2 linked regions of the Homo sapiens genome follow. The protein of the gene in region 1 purifies or fractionates together with the protein of each later gene. This does not show direct contact. Each region holds a gene or a part of one and is shown on either strand. Other genes may lie near its edges.

Region 1 (7,033 bases):
CCACGCCATACACCCTCCCATGCCATACACCCCTCCCACGCCTCCCACGCCATACACCCCTCCCACGCCATACACCCCTCCCACGCCATATACCCCTCCCACGCCATACACCCTCCCACGCCATACACCCCTCCCACGCCATACACCCCTCCCACACCATACACTCCTCCCATGCCTCCCATGCCATACAAGCCCTCCCACGCCATACACCCCCTCCCACGCCATACATCCCTCCCACGCCTCCCATGCCATACACCCCTCCCACGCCATACACCCCCTCCCACGCCATACACCCCTTCCCATGCCTCCCACGCCATATACCCCTCCCACGCCTCCCACACCATACACCCCTCCCACGCCATACACCCCTCCTATGCCATACAACCCCTCCCACCCCATACACCCCCTCCCACGCCATACACCCCTCCATGCCGTACACCCCCTCCCAAGCCATACAACTGAACACCAGGCTCTGGGGGCCGCCATCCAGTCCCAGTGGGGTCACCTGGAGGCTGTGTCACCAGGAGCAAGGAGTTTAACGTCACCGTGCCTCAGTTTCCTCATGTCTGTAATAGCGAGCGTGAACTCAGTGAGAGACTAAGGCCTCCAGGGCAGGTCTGTGTCTTTCTTGGACACATAGCCCTTAGTCCGTGGAAGGAGGGCGGGAATTTTGATGCTTTTCTGTGAAGGAAAGGGCTCAAGCATCAGTGACCAAATCTCTGGGAGCCTCACCTTCTAGAAAATTGTCTTGCCCATCCCTCCAGGATTCTCCCAGGGTTGCAAATAATCCCCAGGAGGCCTGAAGCCCTCAGGGCCCCCTCCCCAGGAACTTCCCAACATCATCAGCCCCTTCCTTAGCACCGTCCCTGTCTTACAGACAAGGAAACTGAGGCTCCTGGAGAGTATGCGACTCATCCAAACTCACACGCTGGATGTATTCCCTCAACCTGGGCCCAGCTGGGGGCCTTCTGGGAGGAGTGGCATTGGAGAGCTCCTCTGTCCTGCCATGGGAGGCCCAGCCTTCTCCCACATGAAGACCCCTCAGGGCTAGAGCCCGGGGCACAGATGAGGAGAAAGGCAGGCCTAGTTCCCACCCCCAGGGACGGCGTTCCATGACATTCTGCAAAGAGTCCGTGTGACTTCCCATGTCCATTTCAAGCTGCACAGTTTCCCTGAAGTGAAAAACCACAAAACCCCTTCTGCCGAGATGCTATGCAGGCCTGGGGGCCGATGTCAGAACCAAGAGGAAGGAGAAGGGAGGGGAGGGGAACTCTGGGCCCTCCGCCAAAGCCCGCTTGCTTCTCTGTGGCAGGATGGAAGGGGATGGACGCTGGTCACCACCTACCCTGTGCCAGGCACTGAGCTGGGTGCTTCCAACAACACCGGGGTGAGTTCCCATTTCACAGACCAGGAAACAGGCCCAGAGTGGGGAAGCCAAGGCCCGAAGGCACAGAGCTGGGGGGAGAAGTCGGGATGGCAGGAGGGGCAGCCCCTGGAACAGGGGAGCCCACTGAGGCCAGGTGCTGGGGAGAAAGGAAGGGTGGGGCAGGGACGAGGAGCCTGAGGCTCAGAGAGGATGTCACTCGCTCTGAGTCACATGCTGGGCGTCTCCCCTCTACCTGGAGGCATATACGCCCACCAGGGATCATGGGCAGTGGTTGTCATGGGGCTTGGCTGGCAAGAGCAGGGTGCCCTGAGCTCAGCCCGGAGTCTGGTCACCACAGCCCCCTGTGTTGAGGAGGTGTCACTGGGCACTTGGCCACTGTCTCCTTATAAGGGACCACATCTGCGTCCACTTCCCCCACATCCACCAACTGCCTTTTCCCTGGCACCCAGCCACCCACTCACCCAGGACAAGGGTCCTGAGCTGGGGGGCCAGGGCTCACTTTGGCTCGGCCTCTCACTGCTCTAGGACTTTAGTCAGTTCCCCCTCTCCGGGCCTCAGTCTCCCATCTGTCTAGGACTCATTGCCATGCGATGGCTCATCAAGCTGAGGCAGGGGGCAGGGGAGCTACAGAGAGGGCAAGGAGGGTGAGGGGGCGGTGGGGGCAGTGGAGGTGCAGGGAGGACAGATGGCCCTCAGCTTTGTGGCTTAGGGAGCCAGTCCACCCCTGTCAGAATCCTGGCTGGGTGGCCTTAAGCCAGCAACATGTCCCCCCGAGCCTGTTTCCTCTCTGTAAAGTGAAGGTGACAAGAGCTCTTCGTCATAGCTGCTGTGAGAATGAAGTGGCTCCCAGGAAGTGCTCAGTCCACATCAGCTGTGATTATCAGCTGGGCTCAGGGCTGCCCCCAAAACTTGTCATCCCAGGGCTGGGGAGTCCAGGTGGGCAGAGGCAGTTGCTGCTTCCCTCACTATCCCTGCCAGTCCCCCCAGGACTCCCCCTAGGCCTAAGCTGGTCTGAGGCACAGTTAAAATCACTGCCCCTGCCCCAGCTCCATGCAGGGTCAGCCAGGAAAGACTGGCTAGAGGCCAAGGCAAGAACTCTGAGTCACCACCTTATGGAGGAGAGAGGGCCTTTGGGGATTGTCCAGGTCAGCTTATGTGGAGAGGGAGACTGAGGCCCAGAGAGGGGCAGCCACTAACCCAAGGTCACACAGCCAATCAGTATCAGAGCCAGGACCAGAATCCAGGCCTCCAGCACCCTCCACATGATCCCAAAGCATGTGCTTTACAAGGGAGAGGTCAGTGACAGCCAGGCCACAGGCTGGAGAGCTGCACCCTGAATAGAAGGAGTCCAGGGGCAGGGGTTGGAGGGGTGCTGGTTGGTCAGAAAGAGAAGGCAGGGATGAATCCTTGATATTTAAAAGGAAAGACTTGCAGGCTGGGGAGCTGTGGCCCTAGGACAGGGGAAGGGAGCCAGGGTGTGAGCCATAGTCTGAGGCCCCCGGGGAAGATGGCTGTGTCACCACGCTAGTCACAGAAGGAGGGAGGTGGTGGCTGCGGTTTCTCTTCCTGTGAAGAGATGTGAGTCCCCAGGGCCCTCCCAGTTCCGGCAGGGGGAGGTGGGGCGGGGCTGGGGCGGTGGGGCGGGAGGAGGTCTAGTGGATTCAATTTGGGGGCCAAACCCTGGGCCTGCAGAGTCCTGTGGTGAGGCAGAGGGCACAGCTCATATGACCAAACCCAGCTGGTGGTTTTGGGCTTTTGGGCAAGGATCCCTGAGCTACAGACACATTGGGACCTACCAGGGACAGGGACAGGAACAGCCAGCAGGCCTGGGTACCATGCATGAAGCCAGACCCATGGTCATCGCCTCCCTGATGCAGGCAGCCCTGAGCCACTACAAAGAAGCACCCCCCAGCAGTGAGCCAATAATTTGCTGTCCTTCCTTCAAATCTGGCTGGGCCACCTACTAGCTGGGTGACCTTGAGAAGTTACTATATTTCTCCAGCCCAGTGATTTGGAGGCAAAGAGGGGTCGAGCTGAGAAACCAAAGGGAGTGGGGAAAGGGAGGAGAGAAGGTGGTGGAAGGAAATGTGTCACCCTTTAGATCTAATGCAGCGCCACCTCCTCCAGGAAGCCTTCCCAGAACACCCAAGTTTGACTTGCCACTTGTCCTCCAAGCAACCACAGCACCCCCACTCAATCTCTGCTTCTGTCTGCTCAAAGCACACCTCCTTATTTTCAGTATCTATTAATAGATACTACTCATACTACTAGGACGACTACTACTAACACAGAGTGCTTCTCACACACAGGTGCTGCCCTGGCAGCTCCACCTGGAATAAGTTACTGAATTCCCCCAACCACCCCAGGAGGCAGGAGCTATCACTATCCCATGCTTTTCTGATAAGGAAACACAGGCAGAGAGAGGCTACGTGACTCGCCCAAGGTCACACAGCAAGTGCACAGCACAGCTGAGTTCAAACTGCACAGCCTGGCCCTGCAGCCCGTGTTTACAATCACACCACGAGGCCAAGTCAGGGCCTCCCCTGCAGCCAGATCGCCCCTCTGAGCCCGAGGCCCATACCAATCTCCTTGGCCAGTGCCAGGCCCTGCGGGTAGGTGATGGGAGCCAGCTTCTTCTCCTTCAGTTTCTCGATGGTGTCCTTGTCGTCCCGCAGGTCCAGCTTGGTGCCCACCAGGATGATGGGTGTGCTGGGGCAGTGGTGCCGCACTTCTGGGAACCACTGGGCAGGTGGGTGGGGGGACACAAGGTTGTATGGGTCAAGAGGGGGCGCGAGGCTGTGCGGGGATCAGAGGGAGTGTGAGGGTGTAGGGAGAGGAGAGGCAGCAAGTTGCCAGAAGATCAGAGGTGGGCACGACGGTGAGGAGAGAGAGACGTGAGGTGGCACAGGGAGGGGAGGCCACGACGTTGTGCAGGAAGGAGGGGGCGCATGATTGTAGGAAAGGAGGAGGCGAGGTTTTGTGCAGACATAAGAAGCAAACATGAGGTTATGTGACAATCGGAGGCGGACATGAGGTTGTGTGGGGAGGAGGAGAATGCAGCCATGGAAAGTGGGGGTATAGCTAACTATCGCAGCACCCCCCACCCCAGGTCCTCTGAATCTTACCCCCTCAAGTCCCTCTGCCAGCCCTGGTTGGCACTGGGGACCCTCTCTGTATGCGACCTCTGCTGCCCCAGGGACCAGCCTAGAGTCACCAGTTCCTCCCTCTGTCCCTCAGGGTTACCTGCCCCAGAGCCCCCAAGGCCCACCCTGTCCAGCTCACCTTGGCGCGGACGTTCTCATAAGAGGCTGGGCTGACGAGGGAGAAGCAGATGAGGAAGACGTCCTGGGGACAGAGCAAGCGAGGTTGCTAGTGAGGAGGGCCCAGAGGTGTCCCACCATGGCAGCCACCGAGAGGTGGAGCTTGGGGCTCCCTGAGGGTGGAACACCCCAGGGAATGCTGGGGACTTAGGATCTGGGCAGAGCAGAGATACCCTTCTCGCCTCTACCACGAGGCTGCTGTTTGTTAGGACGCTCACTAAAGGCCAGGGCCTCTGCGAAGTGGTTATCCTCACATGTCACTCTGCAGCAAGCACTGCTGGTAGCCCCATTCCTCAGACAGGGAAAGTGAGGCTTCCAGAGGTTAAAGAGTTTGCCAACGTGCACTCTGGTGAGGGGAGGATCTGGGATTCTAGAGTCCATACTCCAATCCATATACTATCCACCATCTGATTACCGGCCTTAGCCGCCTCCCTGCATACCCTGGAGGAAGGGCGAGGACCCAGCAGCCACCTGCAGGCATCCTCCACCTCTCCCCTCCCCCAGCACTCCCAGGGCTCACCATGCTGGGCTGCCTCCTGGGGCCCTGTGCAGAATCCACCTGCCCCACCACTGGAAACAGGGGGTGCCAGAGCCCAGGAGGCAATGGGGTGGGAAGATGGGCACATTGAGGACCGGGAACCAATGCAGGGCTGAGGGAGTGCAAGAGGAAGCCCTTCTCTGCCTGGGACATGCAAGGCAGGCAGACTCCCTGAGCTGGGCCTTAAGGGGAGAGGTAGGGTTTCCCAGGCTGAGCTGGCTGGAAGGGCATCCCAAGCAGAGGGAACAGAGACAGCAAAGGTCAGGACTGCAAGGCAGGTGGGAGCAGCACACCGTCTGTGGATAGGAGAGCGGCCGGAGACGGTCGTAGTCCTCCTGCCCAGCAGTGTCCCACAGCCCCAGGTTCACTGGCTTGCTGTCCACCATCACATTGGCTGAATAGTTGTCAAACCTGTGGGGAGCAGGCAAGGCGGAGGTAAGGTCAATCTCAAACCCCAGAACCTGGGAATTGTGGTCCAGCTCCATGTCATTCCTCGGAGGCTGAGACCTAGAGACAGTCTGCGACTGGCCCAAAGTCACACAGCATTTGCAATTGGGTTTCTTTATTTGTTTCATTACTGATTCATTATATTTTTTAAAAATGTAATACAAGTTAACAAGAAGAAAAAAAGATTGTCTCTTAATCCTTTTCCTACCCGTACCTGTCCTTTGGAAAGGTAATTGAGGCTGTGTAACTTTTCCTCCCAGTCTTGATGAGAATAAACTTACCTCTCTCCCTATGCTGCCACTCAATGTTTGCTTTTTGTTGTTTTTTGTTTGTTTGTTTGTTTTTTGAAATGGAATCACGCTCTGTCGCCCAGGCTGGAGTGCAGTGGCACCATCTCGGCCCACTGCAAACTCTGCCCCCTGGGTTCAAGTGATTCTCCTGCCTCGGCCTCCCAAGTAGCTGGGATTACAGGCATGCACCACCACGCCCAGCTAATTTTTGTATTTTTAGTAGAAACAGGGTTTCACCATGTTGACCAGGCTGGTCTCGAACCCCTGAACTTAAGTGATCCGCCCGCCTCGGCCTCTCAAAGTGCTAGGATTACAGGCGTGAGCCACTGCGCCCAGCCGCAATATTTTGTCGAATGAATGTTCATCCCGTCTCAGGCTGGGTCCCCCCAGAAGCAAACCCTGAGACAAGGAGGTGATGTGAGGGGTTTATTCGGGAAGTGACTCCAGGATGCTGCAGAAGGGGAGTGGGGAGGAATAAAGGAGGGGACAGCAGCTGACACAGGGCAGGTGGTTGAGTTGTCATGGCTGTGGACTGCTGCTGCTCTCAGTCCTGCTGGGGCCACCTGGGAGACAGAACGGACCGTGCTCAGGGCGTCCCCAGAGAAGGCAGGAAGCTAGGGTGCTGTCATTCATCTCCCATCTTCCAGGGAAAGAGGGCTGCTTCCGGGGCCTTTCAGCCCACCCCAGAGTGTGCGTGAAAGCTGTTAGTCACTGGCCATGGGAAGGGCCACGGCAAACGGTAGAAAGACACATGCTGCCGAGGAGATGGTGTGAGGCACTGACCTTGACTCCCAATGTCTCCCGCCAGACCCAGAGAGCCCTGCAGGGCCATCGAACGAGCCTCCAGATGCACTTGCTAGGCACCTACTATGCATCGGGTGCAGAGCCAGCGCTGGGGCCACCAAGGAGTACATGCCTGATCCTGCCCCCACAGCTGGCGGAAGGCCAGACACGGGGTGAGGGGCCTGACAAATATCAGAGACGGGGAAGCCCAACGAATGCTGGGAGGGCCATCCCAGGGCTCCAAGCTCGGAATAGGGGAGGTTTTGCA
Region 2 (7,033 bases), on another chromosome or scaffold:
TCCATAATTTCTCCAAAGCCCAGCGCTCTGCATATATCTTCCTAGTTCTTCCTTCAGAAAACCTAAATGATGCAAAATGATACCACAGTGTTGAATGTTTGATTTTAAGGTGGGTGGATTTAATAAGGAAAAGATGTTTTGCGTCTTTTTCATTGATCGCTTAGGCATTCTTGCTTTTTTGATTGATTTTTAACCTGGGTGGAGGGGTTTGAGGAGCTGTTTGAGAATGTGATGAAGGTCTTGGACCATATCTCTAGAAAAATGTACATACACAATACACAAACACAGGCACACAGACCCCCCCAACACAGACACACACACACACACACACACACACAGACAGACACAGACACACACACACAGACACACACACACACACAGTTCTACACATGATTTCAGGTGGGGAGGTCTCCCACCCTGTCCTCATAGATGCATTGGGCTTCCATGGACTTCATCTCTCCATTGCCTTGCTGTGATAAGTTGCACCTTCATAATGGAAACTCACTCTGATTCAGAACCAGCTGAACACTGGTTGCTGAGAACAATGCGTAGAAGGGTTGACTGCACAGGCCACTTCGTTTGATGGTTTGCATGTGGCATTCTGGAAGGAGCATGGCTCTGCCATTGGAGAGTTCTGATACAGAACCCAGGATCTGGTTTTGGAATAAATAACTTCTCCAAGCTTAGGTTTCCTCCTTTGTGCAATGGGTCTGACGGTCTGCCCTGGCAGGTGTGAGGTGATGATGTGGCAGGACGTGCACAGCAGGCTGGCACAGGGCCGTCCTCTCGTGTGTTCCCTGAGGGAACCCAATTCTGCGTGGCCTGTAGGACCTACTGGCTGGGCCTCCTAAGCTGGTTCTTTGTAGCTGCCCTGGCACCAGCACTGACGTGCCCATACCAGAACTGATCATGCCTACACTAGAAGTGACCATGCCCTACCCACAGTAGTACTGACTCTATCCACGCATTACTGACCCCTGCCCATACCAGTATTGACCCCACCCACACCAGCACAAACCATGCCCACACCGTCACTGACCCTGCCTGTACCAGCACGTTCCTAGGGGCCGGTTCAGGGATAGGATAAGGAGTAGTATTTGGGAGGGAGGAGCTTGCTTTGTTAGTGAGACATATTACAAAAATAACTAATGAGACCTTAAAATGCTTTTTACATTTTCTCCAGATGTCTTTCTGTTGGTCTTGAGGCACCCTGCTTACATTGCAGCCACTGCGGCTGTTTTCATGCAGTGCAAAAAGCCTCTATTTGTTTAAAGTCTGTTTACCCTGATGCTGTTGACAGGCCCAGTTGGTCCTCCTGCTTCACTGTCAGTGGAATTTGCTCAATAGATATTAAAAGGAAAAAATCAGTTTTCTGTATTTGTCTTCCCAGTGGTACAGTGCTTGAGCAAAACTCCAAAGACTAAATATGTTTGAGATGCTGGCAGACTCGTATCTGGCTTTAAGGTGTGTGACCTCAAGACTCGAAGTCTCAGGGTAGTTTTTTAGATGGAACATTTATTGGCAATTCAACTTTCCTCTTTAATTTGTAACTATAAAGATGTTCTCTAATTGAAATTTATCATTCTTTCAAATGACTCTGTTTCCTTTTTCATATTGTTAAAAAAGCCTGTTTCCATCGGCTTGTTAATTACAGGAATATAATCCTAACGGGTAAGAGGCACCTATGGTTAATTTTCTGCCCTTAGACCTGCGTGTTTTGTTAACAAGAAAGCCAGAACCTACTGCCAGATCACAACTCTTGATCTCTTTTGTTACACAGTTGTCTGTGTTCTTTAAATAAAAACTGTGGTAAAAATCATCTTACAATTTTGTTGGATTTGAGGAATCAGAGAGAATATTCCCCAAAATATGTACTGTTTATTTATTTATTTATTTATTTATTTTTAGTATTTATTGATCATTCTTGGGTGTTTCTCCGAGAGGGGGATTTGGCAGGGTCATAGGACAATAGTGGAGGGAAGGTCAGCAGATAAACATGTGAACAAAGGTCTCTGGTTTTCCTAGGCAGAGGACCCTGCGGCCTTCCGCAGTGTTTGTGTCCCTGGGTACTTGAGATTAGGGAGTGGTGGTGACTCTTAAGGAGCATGCTGCCTTCAAGCATCTGTTTAACAAAGCACATCTTGCACCGCCCTTAATCCGTTTAACCCTGAGTGGACACAGCACATGTTTCAGAGAGCACGGGGTTGGGGGTAACGTCATAGATTAACAGCATCCCAAGGCAGAAGAATTTTTCTTAATACAGAACAAAATGGAGTCTCCCATGTCTACTTCTTTCTACACAGACACAGTAACAATCTGATCTCTCTTTCTTTTCCCCACATTTCCCCCTTTTCTATTCGACAAAACCGCCATCGTCATCATGGCCCGTTCTCAATGAGCTGTTGCGTACACCTCCCAGACGGGGTGGCCACCAGGCAGAGGGGCTCCTCACTTCCCAGACGGGGCGGCCGGGCAGAGGCGCCCCCCACCTCCCGAACGGGGTGGCTGCCGGGTGGAGGGGCTCCTCACTTCTCAGATGGGGCGGCCCGTCAGAGACGCTCCTCACCTCCCAGACGGGGTGGCGGCGGGGCAGAGACACTCCTCAGTTCCCAGACGGGGTCGTGGCTGGGCAGAGGCGCTCTTCACATCTCAGACGGGGCGGCAGGGCAGAGGCGCTCCCCAGATCCCAGACGATGGGCGGCCGGGCAGAGACGCTCCTCACTTCTAGACGGGATGACGGCCGGGAAGAGGCGCTCCTCACTTCCCAGACTGGGTGGCCGGGCAGACACGCTCCTCACTTCCCAGACGGGGTGGCGGCCGGGCAGAGGCTGCAATCTCGGCACTTTGGGAGGCCAAGGCAGGTGGCTGGGAGGTGGAGGTTGTAGCGAGCCGAGATCATGCCACTGCACTCCAGCCTGGGCAACACTGAGCACTGGGTGAGCAAGACTCTGTCTGCAATCCCAGCACCTCGGGAGGCTGAGGCTGGCAGATCACTCACGGTCAGGAGCTGGAGACCAGCCGGGCCAACCCGGTGAAACCCCGTCTCCATCAAAAAATACGAAAACCAGTCAGGTGTGGCGGCGCGCGCCTGCAATCCCAGGCACTCCGCAGGCTGAGGCAGGAGAATCAGGCAGGGAGGCTGCAGTGAGCCGAGATGGCGGCAGTACAGTCCAGCCTTGGCTCGGCATCAGAGGCAGACCGTGGAGAGAGAGGGAGAGGGAGACCGTGGAGAGGGAGAGGGAGACCGTGGAGAGGGAGAGGGAGAGGGAGAATGTACTGTTATAGACTGGACAGATTTATTAGCCAGATGTTGCTTGTGTTTTTAGTTGGTGACTACATTTAGCCATCTGGCCAGGAAGTTGCTTAACCTTATTGTAGATAACGTCCATATGTTTGGTGTTCACATACAATAGAACATCTGTATTGAAAATCTTCCTGTGGCCTCATGTAAGGACTCGAAGTAGAAGGGGAGACATGCAGGGATCCCTATTGGGGTCAGTGGGGAGTAAAAAGGTGGTGGATAGATCTCTCCTCCAAGTTTTCTTCCCTCTCTCCTTCCTCAACTCTCTGATGATGTCACAACTGCCAGCTATGTGTTTGGGTTGATGGATGTATATGTGATTGCATATATATGTGAATGTGTGTGTGTGTGTACATATGTAGTATGCCTTAGGTGGGGTGCAGTGGCTCACGCCTGTAATCCCAGCACTTTGGGAGGCTGAGGTGGGCAGATCACCTGAGGTCAGGAGTTGAGACCAGCCTGGCTAACATGGCAAAACCTCATCTCTACTAAAAATACAAAAATTAGCCGGGTGTGGTGGCACACACCTGTAACCCCAGCTACTCGGGAGGCTGAGGCAGGAGAATTGCTTGAACCCGGGAGATGGAGGTTGCAGTGAGCCGAGATCGCACCACTGCACTCCAGTATGGGCAACAAGAACGAGACTGTCTCAAAAAAAAAAAAAAAAAAAAAAAAAGTATGCCTTAAAACTTTTCATATTTTACATAATAATTAGTAATACATACTTCACTTGGGCCTTGTAGATCTGTAAAACTTCTCCTTGCAAGACAAAGCCACTGTTGATTGCAATGGAAATAAAAATTGAGGATTTTTTTTTTTTTTTTTTTTTTTACTTCTCCCAAGATGACACATTTTAAGCTAAAGAAAGCAGCCTCCAAGAATTTTATATTCCTAATATTTTGGGCAAGCCCGAGTTTCTAGGTTGTTTTTACCTGCCCAGTTGCTGTGGTGGAAGTTGTGCTAGAAAATTCAGCCTCCTTGGTCTATGTCTGTGAACTTACTAAATTCTTGTTGTTCTAGAATTCTAGATTTGGACCTGGTGGTTAGAGATGAAGATGGGAATATTTTGGATCCAGAATTAACTAGCACGATTAGTCTCTTCAGAGCTCATGAAATAGCTTCTAAACAAGTGGAGGAAAGGTTACAAGAGGAAAAAGTAAGTTTGACTCTGTCATATGCCATTCACGTTTTCTCAGTAATAAGTTTTCAACATTAGTAAAGTATCAGTCAAGCCCAAAATTGTCACTAAGAAAGAACCTGAAAAGGAGTAGCTGCAGAGTTTGTGTCCTACAGTCATGAGTGGAATGGAGCCTGGTGGCACAGGATGTCACCCATGACATGAAAGGGGGTCGGACAGCATTGTGTTTCATCGTAGGAGACAGGATCCTAATGATGTTGATTTTGTGTTCTCATCTGTCAAATGAGACACAAGACTTGATTCTGCATTTCCTCTCGGATAATGGTAGGCAGGTCATGTATTCCAAGCTCATTGAGGGCAGAGAGTACATGTCTTATTGTCTTTTCGTCTTCTATGATCTTTAATGGTATCATGTATGCATTAGCCTGTTCTCGCCTTACTATAAAGAAGTGCCTGAGACTGGGTAATTTATAAAGAAAAGAGGTTTAATTGGTTCATGGTTCTGCAGACTGTATAGGAAGGATAGTGGCTTCTGCTTCTGGGGAGGCCTCAGGAATCTTATAATTATGGTGGAAGGCGAAGTGGGAGCCAACACTTCACATGGCTAGAGCAGGAGGAAGAGAGAGGGTGTGCGGGGGGGTGCTACACGCTACACTTTTAAACGACGAGATCTTGTGAGAGCTCACCATCATGAGGACAGCACTGAGAGGATGGTGCTAAACCATTCATGAAAAATCCACCCCATGATCCAGTCACCTCCCACCAGTATATATATATACACACACACACAGTAGATACTCAGAAATTGACTAATTGAATCATCTGTTAATTCAACAAGTACTTACTGAGCATCTACTGTGTACCAAATGTTGAAGACATAATGATACATGAGACAGATGTCCTTGGAGGGTTTAGTCTAATGAGGGAACAAAAAATTAAATAACTACACATATATAATCATTATTTTGATTTATTGGATGGACACCTGAAAGTTTTGTATCTCTGAAAATACTCAGCACAGCAGTTGCACAGGATACAATTTTTTGTCTGTTGTGTGAATGCATGATTTAAGAATGTGCAGGGGAGATAAGAAAGTGACTGCACCAAGGCCTTTGCTGGGTTATGCCAATGAGTTATTACAATTTTCTATTCTGTAGGGAATAAAGAAAGCAAGTGTCAGTGATGAGTGTTGCTGGGGTTGACTTTCTGTTTCCTTCCATACACAGTCTCAAAAGCAGAACATAGATATTAACAGACAAGCCAAGTTTGCTGCAACCCCTTCTCTGGCCTTGTTTGTGAACCTCAAAAATGTGGTTTGTAAAATAGGAGAAGATGCTGAAGTCCTCATGTCTCTATATGACCCTGTGGAGTCCAAATTCATCAGGTGGGTGACATTTCTTGGCTGCCGTCTTTCCTCTTTGGTTAGTGTTAGGAACTTGGGATCAGAACCACTGAAGCGTCCCATTCATGCTGAGAGGCCTTGGATGAATGGCTGCTGGACACGAGCAAGCAGCCGAGTCAAGAGCTGTCTTAGACAGTGTGATGGCAGCCAGGTTGGGCTCTGGGTCAGGGTGAACCTTCTTGCGTGTAGATTGCTATTTGCTCGTAGAGTTATAGCAGTTGCAGGTACACTCTGGCCGTATCTTAAGAGTGTAGCTGAAGATTGAAGTAATACTTTGTTTCCTAAGTTGTCTTCGTAAGATTTTATATATCCTGGTCCCTCAAATATCACTATTTCCATTTTTCAAAATTTGGTTTCTATGAATGCCATTTCTGTGAGTTTTGTCTTGTTTTTTCTGCAAGATGATTGGCTGGAATACATCATTTAGAATGGTGCCTGCCACATACAGACTGTCAGTTAATATTTGTTAAATGAAAACACTGTAAGTCTATTTTTTCCTGCTTAGCCTTCAGTATAACTTTCTCTTTGCCCAGATGGAAACAATGTGGTTCAACTATGTATGAATTATGTGTGTGTCTGTGTATATGTTAAAACTCTAGTATCTTCACTTGTATTATTCAAAATTTGAAAACTTAGTGTATGAATGATACAGAAAAATACGAGTGGATTTTATTCTCACTTCTGATAAAGACTTTGTTTCCTCTTGACATAGGATGCAGTTTTTATTTTACAATGTATTTGGTTTGTCATAGGTTTTGAAATAAACATGCATTGTGCTGAATTTTATAGTATTGTCATTCTAAATGAACAAATAGGCTCTTAAAAAAAAAACCAACTTAGAAATACCATTTGCAAGTAGTTCTATTACAGTGACAACCCAAGACATTGCACATTAAAACTTGGCAAGGTTTTTGTGCTGTGGATGTTAATTGATGAGTAGCTGTATGTGATACTTTTGATATTTATAAACTCAATAGTTGTCTGTATAGTGCACGTACATGGTATTAATTATGAAGCAATGTGGATGTACATTTGGTACCCTGTTATTTGGAAAATTAACTTGCTTTTATTTCTCCATTTTTCAAGTGAGAACTACCTGGTTCGCTGGTCCAGTTCAGGATTACCTAAAGACATAGACAGATTACATAATTTGCGAGCCGTGTTTACTGTAAGTGCACCCAAAGATGCTTAG

Evidence for each region. The genes of interacting proteins can lie anywhere in the genome.
Region 2: the proteins of RAC2 (region 1) and DOCK1 purify together in Homo sapiens (affinity purification with mass spectrometry; 2 studies listed by BioGRID and IntAct, with this or other methods). This does not show direct contact.

The regions. Positions count from the first base shown.
Region 1 is NC_000022.11:37,227,263-37,234,295, forward strand, and holds part of RAC2 (ras-related C3 botulinum toxin substrate 2), read right to left. Parts: intron 5,657-7,033; coding exon 5,539-5,656; intron 4,733-5,538; coding exon 4,670-4,732; intron 4,129-4,669; coding exon 3,969-4,128; intron 682-3,968; coding exon of another isoform or gene 644-681; exon of another isoform or gene 477-643; intron 1-476. UniProt on the Homo sapiens protein: Plasma membrane-associated small GTPase which cycles between an active GTP-bound and inactive GDP-bound state.
Region 2 is NC_000010.11:126,992,427-126,999,459, forward strand, and holds part of DOCK1 (dedicator of cytokinesis protein 1), read left to right. Parts: intron 1-4,321; coding exon 4,322-4,457; intron 4,458-5,665; coding exon 5,666-5,823; intron 5,824-6,927; coding exon 6,928-7,009; intron 7,010-7,033. UniProt on the Homo sapiens protein: Involved in cytoskeletal rearrangements required for phagocytosis of apoptotic cells and cell motility. Along with DOCK1, mediates CRK/CRKL regulation of epithelial and endothelial cell spreading and migration on type IV collagen.